Regions from separate parts of the Homo sapiens genome. Here region 1 is linked to region 2. Evidence: fine-mapped expression QTL. A gene starts in region 2. The other region holds a variant in brackets. All regions are shown on one strand. Distances are from middle to middle. Region 1 has its middle 17 kb from the start of KLK2. Region 2 holds the start of KLK4 (kallikrein related peptidase 4).

Region 1 (4,389 bases), 20 kb after region 2:
TGTGGAGTAGACAGAAAGACCCAAATGTTAGCAATCTGGGATCCCCAAGCCCTGTGATAATCTGAAATTCCACTTACCACCTCCTGAGGCCCTGGTACCAATGGCCCCTACTCCTGCCTCTCAGATAGCTAAGAGTTCCAATGTGTGGGCACACACCCATTGGGCTGTAGTCCCCAAGCTCCAGTACTTTTGTCCTCAGAGGAGTCAAGGACTCTCTCCCCAACCCATTAAAATACAGGAGTCCAGAATCCCAACATTTTCCTTCTCCAAGACCTTGGACTCCCGGCTTTCAGCCTTCTCCAACTCCAGGTACAGAACCCATGGGTTCCTACTCCCAGCCACGTTTTTCAGGACCCTGACCCCTGCCTTCTTACCAGGTTTGGTAGTGGGCCTCAGAGAGCTCACAGCGGGGGACAGTGCATGAAGGACCACAGTTAAAATGTCCACATTCAAAGAAAATCACTTGCCAAGATTGGGAGCAGAGCATACACTCCTCAGTTCCCAGGACCTAGTCACCGTCCTAGGCCTCTGGGATGGGAGTAGAGGATCCATGAGGACAGGGTCCTTCTCACCTCCTATTCCCTGACTGTGCCCTTATCTACCTACATATTCTTCACTTATGCCTTCCCCTCAGTTTCTCCAGGAGCCTCTGATATGTTTTTAAAATACTGTTTTCTCTCTAGCTTTAAAAAACTTTTGCCTCTTTTCCCTGGAACTGTATCCTTTTTTGTTCCCACCACCCATCTCATGTGTTATAGGTTCCCAAAAGAGAGAGAAAGGGGAAAAGACCAGAGGGCAAGAAGTTCTCTGTGGTTGGGGATGAAGATAAGGTCACTGGATACAGTGAGTTCAGACAAGTGGTCACTTGGAGCCAGTCATTCAGGCTCATTCATCTGTCACAGATATTAAATGGATGTGACACTCAGTATGTATGACACACAAATTTGGTCCCAGAGTTTGGGTATCTCGGCCAAACTCAGGGTCATACAAGGGCACAGATGTGGCCATACTAGATTGTGGACCTACATATATGCACAACCAGACTTTCAAACTTAGGTATTGGTAGGTACAGCATTTACAGCTTACCTTCACGTAACATATAAATAGATCTCAGCTTCGAGGGTCACTATATGGACATTGATATTTGTATGTAAGTGTGGACAGTTAAGACATGGGTGTGGCTAGGCACAGTGGCTCACGCCTGTAATGCCAGTACTTTGGGAGGCCAACGTGGGTGGATGACCTCAGATTGGGAGTTCAAGACCAGCCTGACCAACATGGAGAAACCCCTTCTCTACTAAAAATACAAAATTAGCCAGGCATGGTGGCACATGCCTGTAATCCCAGCTACTCGGGAGGCTGACACAGGAGAATAGCTTGAACCAGGGAGGCAGAGGTTGACTTGAGCCAAGATCATGCCATTGCACTTCAGCCTGGGCAACAAGAGCAAAACTCTGTCTCAAAAAAAAAAGACATAGGTGTATGTGTGCATACACACGCGCACACACGCGCACACACACACACACACAGAGCTTTGGACATAGAAGCTTGGACCAAAATCTACACTCCACTGTAGGTCTGGATACCCAGTGTTCCAGTTGCACACACTTGCACACAAGGTCTGAACGTACAAGGTGGGGGCCTTAGTAAAGGTACACAGGAGAGAGACACTGATATGCAGTGTTGGGTTTGACTTTGAGGGGACATATCCTGAGTAGCCCCTCCAAAAGCAATTCACAGACATGGGTCTATAGTATGGTGGTTGTATCCAAAAGTATGACCACCTGGGATCAAACATATTATTTCTGAATCTTTGAGAAAATTATTTGACCTCAATGTCTTTCCATTTCCTCATTTGTTCATGGGGGTTTCCTTAAGACTTAAATAGAAAAATGTGTCTTTGTGTGTATGCCTGTGTGTGGGTGTGCATGATAATGCCTGGCACACAGTAACTGTAATGCATAGTAATAAATATCAGTTATTTTAATCAAGGACACATGACTTAGTTATGGTACATAC[G/A]TGTGCACGTTCAGATTTTGAAAACAAATATAGCCAAAATCAGACATATGTGCAGACCCAGATAAAGTTAGTCAAAGCTAATACTGTGATTCATCCATAAAACCACTTAGTGGTGATTCAGAGTTGCAGACACCAACCCCAAGGGCCAGACATTCAAATACAGCTTCATAGGTTAGATTCCTGGCTACTCCCAGACACAGAGTTGGGCATTTATGGGGAAAGACATATTCTGGAGACACAGGCAGCTGGGACAGGAAAGATTTATCTGTCTCTAGATCACCCCCCAAGTCAGACACTTGGTGTTGAAGGTTACTCATCAGTTTTCCCATATGGGGACATGGCTCACATGTGTGGGCAGGTAGTGGACAGCAGGGCCTTGCACACCCACCACATACACATGTGCATGCACATACACACACACACAACACACACACACGCACACAGAACTGCACTACGCACAAGTACCAAACAAGGACTTTTCACAGTCAGAAGACCCTGAGCCTCTACACTGGGAAACGTGGATATGTCCCCTCAAAGTCAAATCCACACATAAACAGACAGCAACAATAGGGCACATCCAGATCAGATCCCCATATTTTTCCTGCCATCTTTGGGAACTGGGCCTGGCACACTGGTGAGGCTAGGGTAACAGATGTGGCAGACAAGGGGTATAAGGAAGAAAGTATAAGTTTGTTTTGCAGGGAAGGTTAGAGAATTTAAATTATGATTCTGAGAGAAAATTCTCCATGGGCCTCTCATGTTTCTACATGGCTTCAAAGTGAAAAAAAAATTGCTTTGGACTATCAAGGATGTTTGGCTAGCAAGCCATCTTGCAAATGGTATTTTCAACAAAACAGCTTTGCTTACCGACCAGTGTAATAATGTGTCCCTTAAAGCAGATTTGTTTAGTGTTCAGTACAATAAATATAGTATGTTCCTCCAGAGCAGGTCTGTTTGTGGTCGGGATAACGAAGAATGTGTCTCCCTCTCGGACAAATATTAATAGTCCCTTCATACGATTCAGGATTCCTAAGCTCAGGTTTCTCAGCTGTGGGTCAAAGCATCGTGTCACAGGATCCTCCTAAACTTCTCTGATCATTCCTGTGGGACTTAGGGTCAAGGCGAACTGATGTGAACACAAAGCTCATGCTGTCTTCTGTGCTGTGAGTAATAAAGTCCTTTGCCTTTGATCCAGAATCCAGTGTGTTCTGCCAGTATCCATAAAACTGTGGCAGGCTAACTTATTTGTTTGCCAGTTGGCAAAATATCAGCCCCTTCAGAGTTTTTGACAAACAGTTGGGCACTAAGGCTGCACCTGTCCAGCTGGAGATGGAAGGGTGGGAGGTAGGAGGGGCCCCAGCTGGGCACAGCCACATGACAGAAGAGGGACCAAGGCTAGGTTGAACTTTTTTGAGGGCAGTGTAAGCCAAGCTGAAGTTGAACTTTCTTGGCCCTTGGAGTTAGGAGGGGCCCCAGCTGGGCACAGCAAAATAACAGAAGAGGGAACAAGGCTGAGTTGAACTTTTCTGGGGATAGTGTAAGCCAAGCTGAAGCTGAACCTTCTTGGCTCTAGCTGGATCCTTCCAGATACAAATTCATCCCACCTTTGGCATAATAAATTTCCTTTCGCCATTTGTCTCTCCTCCTCCCCAACATGCTCTTCCTCTTGGGTTCTCCCTCTTGGGAGAGTTCACTGCTTCCTCAGGCACCAGGATAGATGCCAAGTGCCCCACATCCTGCCAGACACTGGCCACATTCTATCTGTCCCCTGGATCTTCATTTTTAAAGCCTCAGGCCACATCCTCTAACTAGACCCTTTCCCCAGTCTCCTGACCATAATCAGAGTCTTCCCACATGTCTTCATTCCAACTTTTGGGATCCCTACCCTTTCAATTATGCCTTCACTTTAATGGCAGACAGCATGCATGCTGAGGATTTAATTAGCACTGTAATTCAGCCACTCACACAATAAGATTCTAGGTTTGATTTTCAGAAATCTCAGCTCTGTGGCTACAGGAGATAAAGGTTTCTTTCAACATCATAGACATAGCAACTTTAGATTATTTCTTCAGTCTGAGATCTGGAAATTTAAAGTCCTGTGCTCATTCTTTTCTTTTTCCACTTTTGCCAACACAACTAGAAGCAATCATCCAATTTCATTATGCTTGTTACTTTAAAAAATATTCTAAAGTGTCATATACATGATCACCCTGGTCATTTCTCCTTTATTTGATTCGGAATATCCAGTGGTGTTATTTTGCATATCTCTATTGCCACATTACACCACGGACTTTTATTTCTGTTTGTATTACTGAAAATAGAGTTGTGGTGCCTTTAATTTATTCGCATTACAGAACCAATTCCAAACAC
Region 2 (4,389 bases):
AGAGACAGAGATGGGAGGAGAGAGACACAGAGAAAGATGGACAGACACAGGTGCAGAGACACAGACAGAGAGAGAAGGCAAGGTGAGACAGAGACAGGAGGAAAGAGAGACACACAGGGGCAGACAGAGACAGACAGAGATCAGAGGGTCACAGACAGAGGTCAGAGGGAGAGCGAGAGAGAAGGGATCAGAGAGAGAAAGGGACAGGGACAGGGAAAAGAGAGACAGAGACAGAAACCTGCCAGGGCTTCCTGTTCTGTGGTCCCAGCCTATGTCCCGTCCTGCCCAGAGTTATCTGGGGGCGCACGGGCCCAGGACAGAGTTGGGGGAGGGTCTCACTTGGGATGCTTCCAGTCTGGCAGGTGAGAGAAACAGAGACAAGGGGGAGAGAGACAGAGATGGGACCAGAGAGGCAGAGGAAAAGAGAGCCAGAGAGAAAGAGAGACAGACACACGGGGTGGGCTGTGGGGGAAAGAAGTAAGGAAGGAGAAGGAAAGAGTGTTAGAGACCCAGGAGAGACAGAGAGACACAGAGACATTCCTGCCTCGTCGCGGTCACCTGCGGGCACTATCCCTCACCCGCGCCGGCTCCGCGGTCTACACCCACCCACTCCTTGGATGATCTCACCCGGCCTCGTGGCTGTAAACACCACCTCTCCCCTGATGAGTCCCCGCTGTTTCTCGGCAGTCCTGACCTCGGCCTGCCCCTCCGTGCACCCTCCGCGGTCTACGGCACCCTCTCACCCCCCACCCCCCTTCCCGCACCTATGCGTCTCCACAAGATCCGTAGAGCGCAAGCCAGCAGACCAAGCCTCCACGCCATCCTTGGCCCCTCTGCTCCTGGCCCCCCACTTTCCATCCATCGGGCAGTAACTTGGCTCCACATGCAGAGGGGACCCCGTGTCCATTCACCTCTCTTCTCCCTTGACCCCGTCACCTCCCACCTGGGCTGTTGCCACTGCCCCCCGCCCCGCCCCCACCATCACTCTCCAAGCTGGAAGTTTTTAAAAAGTAAATAAGATTATGTCACTCCATCCTCGTGCTTAAAATCCATTGCACTTAAGTAAAACCCAAGCTCCTTAATCCTGGTACGTAAACTCCTGCAGGCCCGCCCGGTTCCCGGTCTGCGCTCCTACCCGCCCTGCCCTCCTACCCGCCCTGCCCTCCTCTGGCTGGAGCCAAGTTCTCCCCTGCACCCCGCAACCGCCCCTGCTGCGGCGACCCTCCTCCTCCTCTTCCCTGGGATCTCAGCTTAAATGTTCCCCTTCTCTGAGTCTCCCCGACCACCACCTTATATGCTGGTCCCTGCAGTTTTCCTTTATGGTCTGTGCCCCCGGGTAGGACGCGATCCCCAGTGACGAGGACTTTGCTGGTTCCTCCTGTGGCCCCAGCACCTGCCGCAGAGCTCGGAGTGTGGTAGGCACTCAGCTGCTTTTCACTGAGCGAAGACTTTTTAGTTCTCCCGCTCACCGAGAGCCTACAATGTGCCTGGCACTGTGTGCCTTTCCCTGAATTACCTCTTTGAATCCACTTGGGAAATGGGGCATAATGGTCACTCCAGTTTTACAGTTGGAAAAACAGGCTCACAGGGGTGCAGTCACTTGCCCAAGGTTCCAAAAATAGTTCGTGATGTAGGCTGGATACGAACCTGGGGAAATTTGCTGGAGAAGCACAGAAAGAGAGGGATGAAGGAGGAGGGGAGAGAGAGAGAGAGATTTAATTTAAAAAGAGAAAGAACATGAGAGAGAACAGGAGAGAATGAGAGGAAATGAAAGAAAACACGAGAAAAATAATGAGAGAGAGAATGAGAGAAAGAAAGAAGAAGAGAAAGAGAAAATGAGAGATACAGGCAAGAGAGAGGTATCTCATGAGAGAGAATAAGAACATGAAAAGAGAAAGAATGAGAGAGAGAGAGAGAAAGAAAAAGGAGAGTGGAGTCTAGGATCTGGGCAGGGGTCTCCTCCCTGGGTCCCTAGACCCTGCTGCCAGCCCCTTCTGGGCCCCCAACCACTGCCTGGTCAGAGTTGAGGCAGCCTGAGAGAGTTGAGCTGGAAGTTTGCAGCACCTGACCCCTGGAACACATCCCCTGGGGGCAGGCCAGCCCAGGCTGAGGATGCTTATAAGCCCCAAGGAGGCCCCTGCGGGAGGCAGCAGGCTGGAGCTCAGCCCAGCAGTGGAATCCAGGAGCCCAGAGGTGGCCGGGTAAGAGGCCTGGTGGTCCCCCACTAAAAGCCTGCAGTGTTCATGATCCAACTCTCCCTACAGCTCCATGTCGCTGGATTCTCAGCCTCTGTGCCTTCTGTCTCCACATCTCTCTAGACAGATCTCTCACTGTCTCTAGTTAGGAGTCACTGTCTCTAGTTAGGGGTCTCTCTGTCTCTCTGAATCTATATCTCCATGTCTAACTCTCAGACTGTCTCTGAGGATATCTCTCAAGCACTCTGTCTCTCCGGCTCTGATTCTCTGTGTGTCTTCCCTCCATGCTTGTTTGTGGGTGGCTAGACACCATCTCTCCCCATTCACAGATGGCTAGATGCTTTCTCTAAACTTTCCTTTCTACCTAGTTCTCTCTCTCTCTCTCTTTTCCCATCTCTCTCTCTCTTTTTCTCTCTCAGTCTCTAAATCTGTCTCTCTAGGTTCTGGGTCCATGGATGGGAGAGGGGGTAGATGGTCTAGGCTCTTGCCTACCTAATAACGTCCCAGAGGGAAGAAAGGGAGGGACAAAGAGAGGGATGGAGAGACTTGGGCTGAAGATCCCCAGACACGGCTAAGTCTCAGTCCTCATCCCCAGGTGCTGACGTGATGGCCACAGCAGGAAATCCCTGGGGCTGGTTCCTGGGGTACCTCATCCTTGGTGTCGCAGGTATCTGAGTATGCGTGTGTGTGTCTGTCCGTGCTTGGGGGCACAGTGTTTGTTAATGTTCAGGTGTGACTCAGTGTCCTCTTGCTTGTGACTGCAAAGCTGCCTGTGAGACGGTACCGTGTTATCCGTCCCCCATGGCTGTGCCCCTGCAACTCCTTGTATCGTGGTAAATTTGTGTGTGGCAGTGTGCCTGGGTGTGTGGTTGTACCTGTGAGACTCTGACAGTTTGTGCCTCTGAATATCTGGTGGAGTGACAACAGTGTAATGATGATATGGGGACAGGGGAAGCCGAGGGTGCAGGAGATTGTGCTTCCTGGGGCGTGATCCATTGCTGGGAATCTGTGCCTGCTTCCTGGGTCTTCAGTCCTGAGATCCCCCTCTCCCATCCCCAAGGAACTCACCTCACAGGACTATAAAACGGTGTTTTGGTGTGCATGGGCTTGTGGCTTGGTGTGACTGTGGGCAAGGCTGGGAGAGGATAGGAGTGACTCGGCGCAGGACCGACTCTTTGAGCATCAGTCTGCGCAGACAAGTGACCCGATCCTTGCTCCCAGCAACAACTCCACCCCCTGAGCTTTAATTCACCCCGAAGGACCCGATCCTACTGCTATGAGCCTAGACTCCTCTGTTGAACCCCTCCTGACCGTGGCTTTGCACCGCGATGGCACCAGTCTCACCTCCAGAGCTCACCCCAGAGCCCTGACTCCGCCCCAGAAGCCCTGGTCCCACCTTCTGAGACTGCCTCTAGCCATAACCCAGCTCTTGAAGCCTTGATGGCGCCCCTGCGCTGTAACCCCAACCCTAGGAGCACTGATCCCGCCTTCTCAGCCCACCCCCATGCCCTGACTCTCCTCCCAGGAGCCCTGACTACCCTGAATCCCTGACCAGGCTCCTGCACCGTGATCACCGCCCCTGGGAGCCCTAGGCCTATATCCTGGACCAGCCCCTGAAGCTCCGATCATGACCCCTGCACCATAACCCCACCCCCAGGAGCCCTGGGTCCGCCCCCTGGGCCCGCCCCCAGCCCTGACTCGGCCCCCCAAGAGTCCTGACTGCTCCTGAAGCCCTGACCACGCCCCTGCTCGGTAACCCCTCCCCCAAGAGCCCTGGGCCCGCCTCCTGAGCCCGTTCCCAGCCCTGACTCCGCCCCGAGGAGCCCTGACTGCTCCTGAACCTCTGACCACGCCCCTGCTCGGTAAGCCCACCCCCAGGAACCCTGGGCCCGCCTCCTGGTCCCGATCCCATCCCTGACTCCGCCCTCAGGATCGCTCGTCTCTGGTAGCTGCAGCCAAATCATAAACGGCGAGGACTGCAGCCCGCACTCGCAGCCCTGGCAGGCGGCACTGGTCATGGAAAACGAATTGTTCTGCTCGGGCGTCCTGGTGCATCCGCAGTGGGTGCTGTCAGCCGCACACTGTTTCCAGAAGTGAGTGCAGAGGTAGGGGGAGTGGGCAGGGCCTGGGTCCGGGGGCGGGGCCTAATATCAGGCTCATCTTGGGGTGCTCAGGGGGAAACAGCGGTGAAGGC

What was found. PIP is the estimated chance that this variant, and not a neighbour inherited with it, causes the effect. A credible set is the group of variants that fine-mapping cannot tell apart.
Region 1: its variant is the best candidate, but not a certain one, in a credible set for the expression of KLK4 in adrenal gland (GTEx, PIP 0.54).

What each region holds. Positions count from the first base shown.
Region 1 is chr19:50,888,661-50,893,049 of GRCh38, reverse strand. It overlaps the pseudogene KLKP1. Among named protein-coding and RNA genes, the nearest start is that of KLK2, 17 kb to the right of the region's middle. RefSeq lists enhancers at 1,750-1,859, 1,930-1,979. The variant G/A (reference allele first, on the strand shown) is at 2,020.
Region 2 is chr19:50,909,151-50,913,539 of GRCh38, reverse strand. It overlaps KLK4 (kallikrein related peptidase 4), which reads left to right and starts at 2,145. Exons shown (of 6, transcript NM_004917.5): 1 at 2,145-2,201; 2 at 2,791-2,862; 3 at 4,126-4,288. The coding sequence starts at 2,802.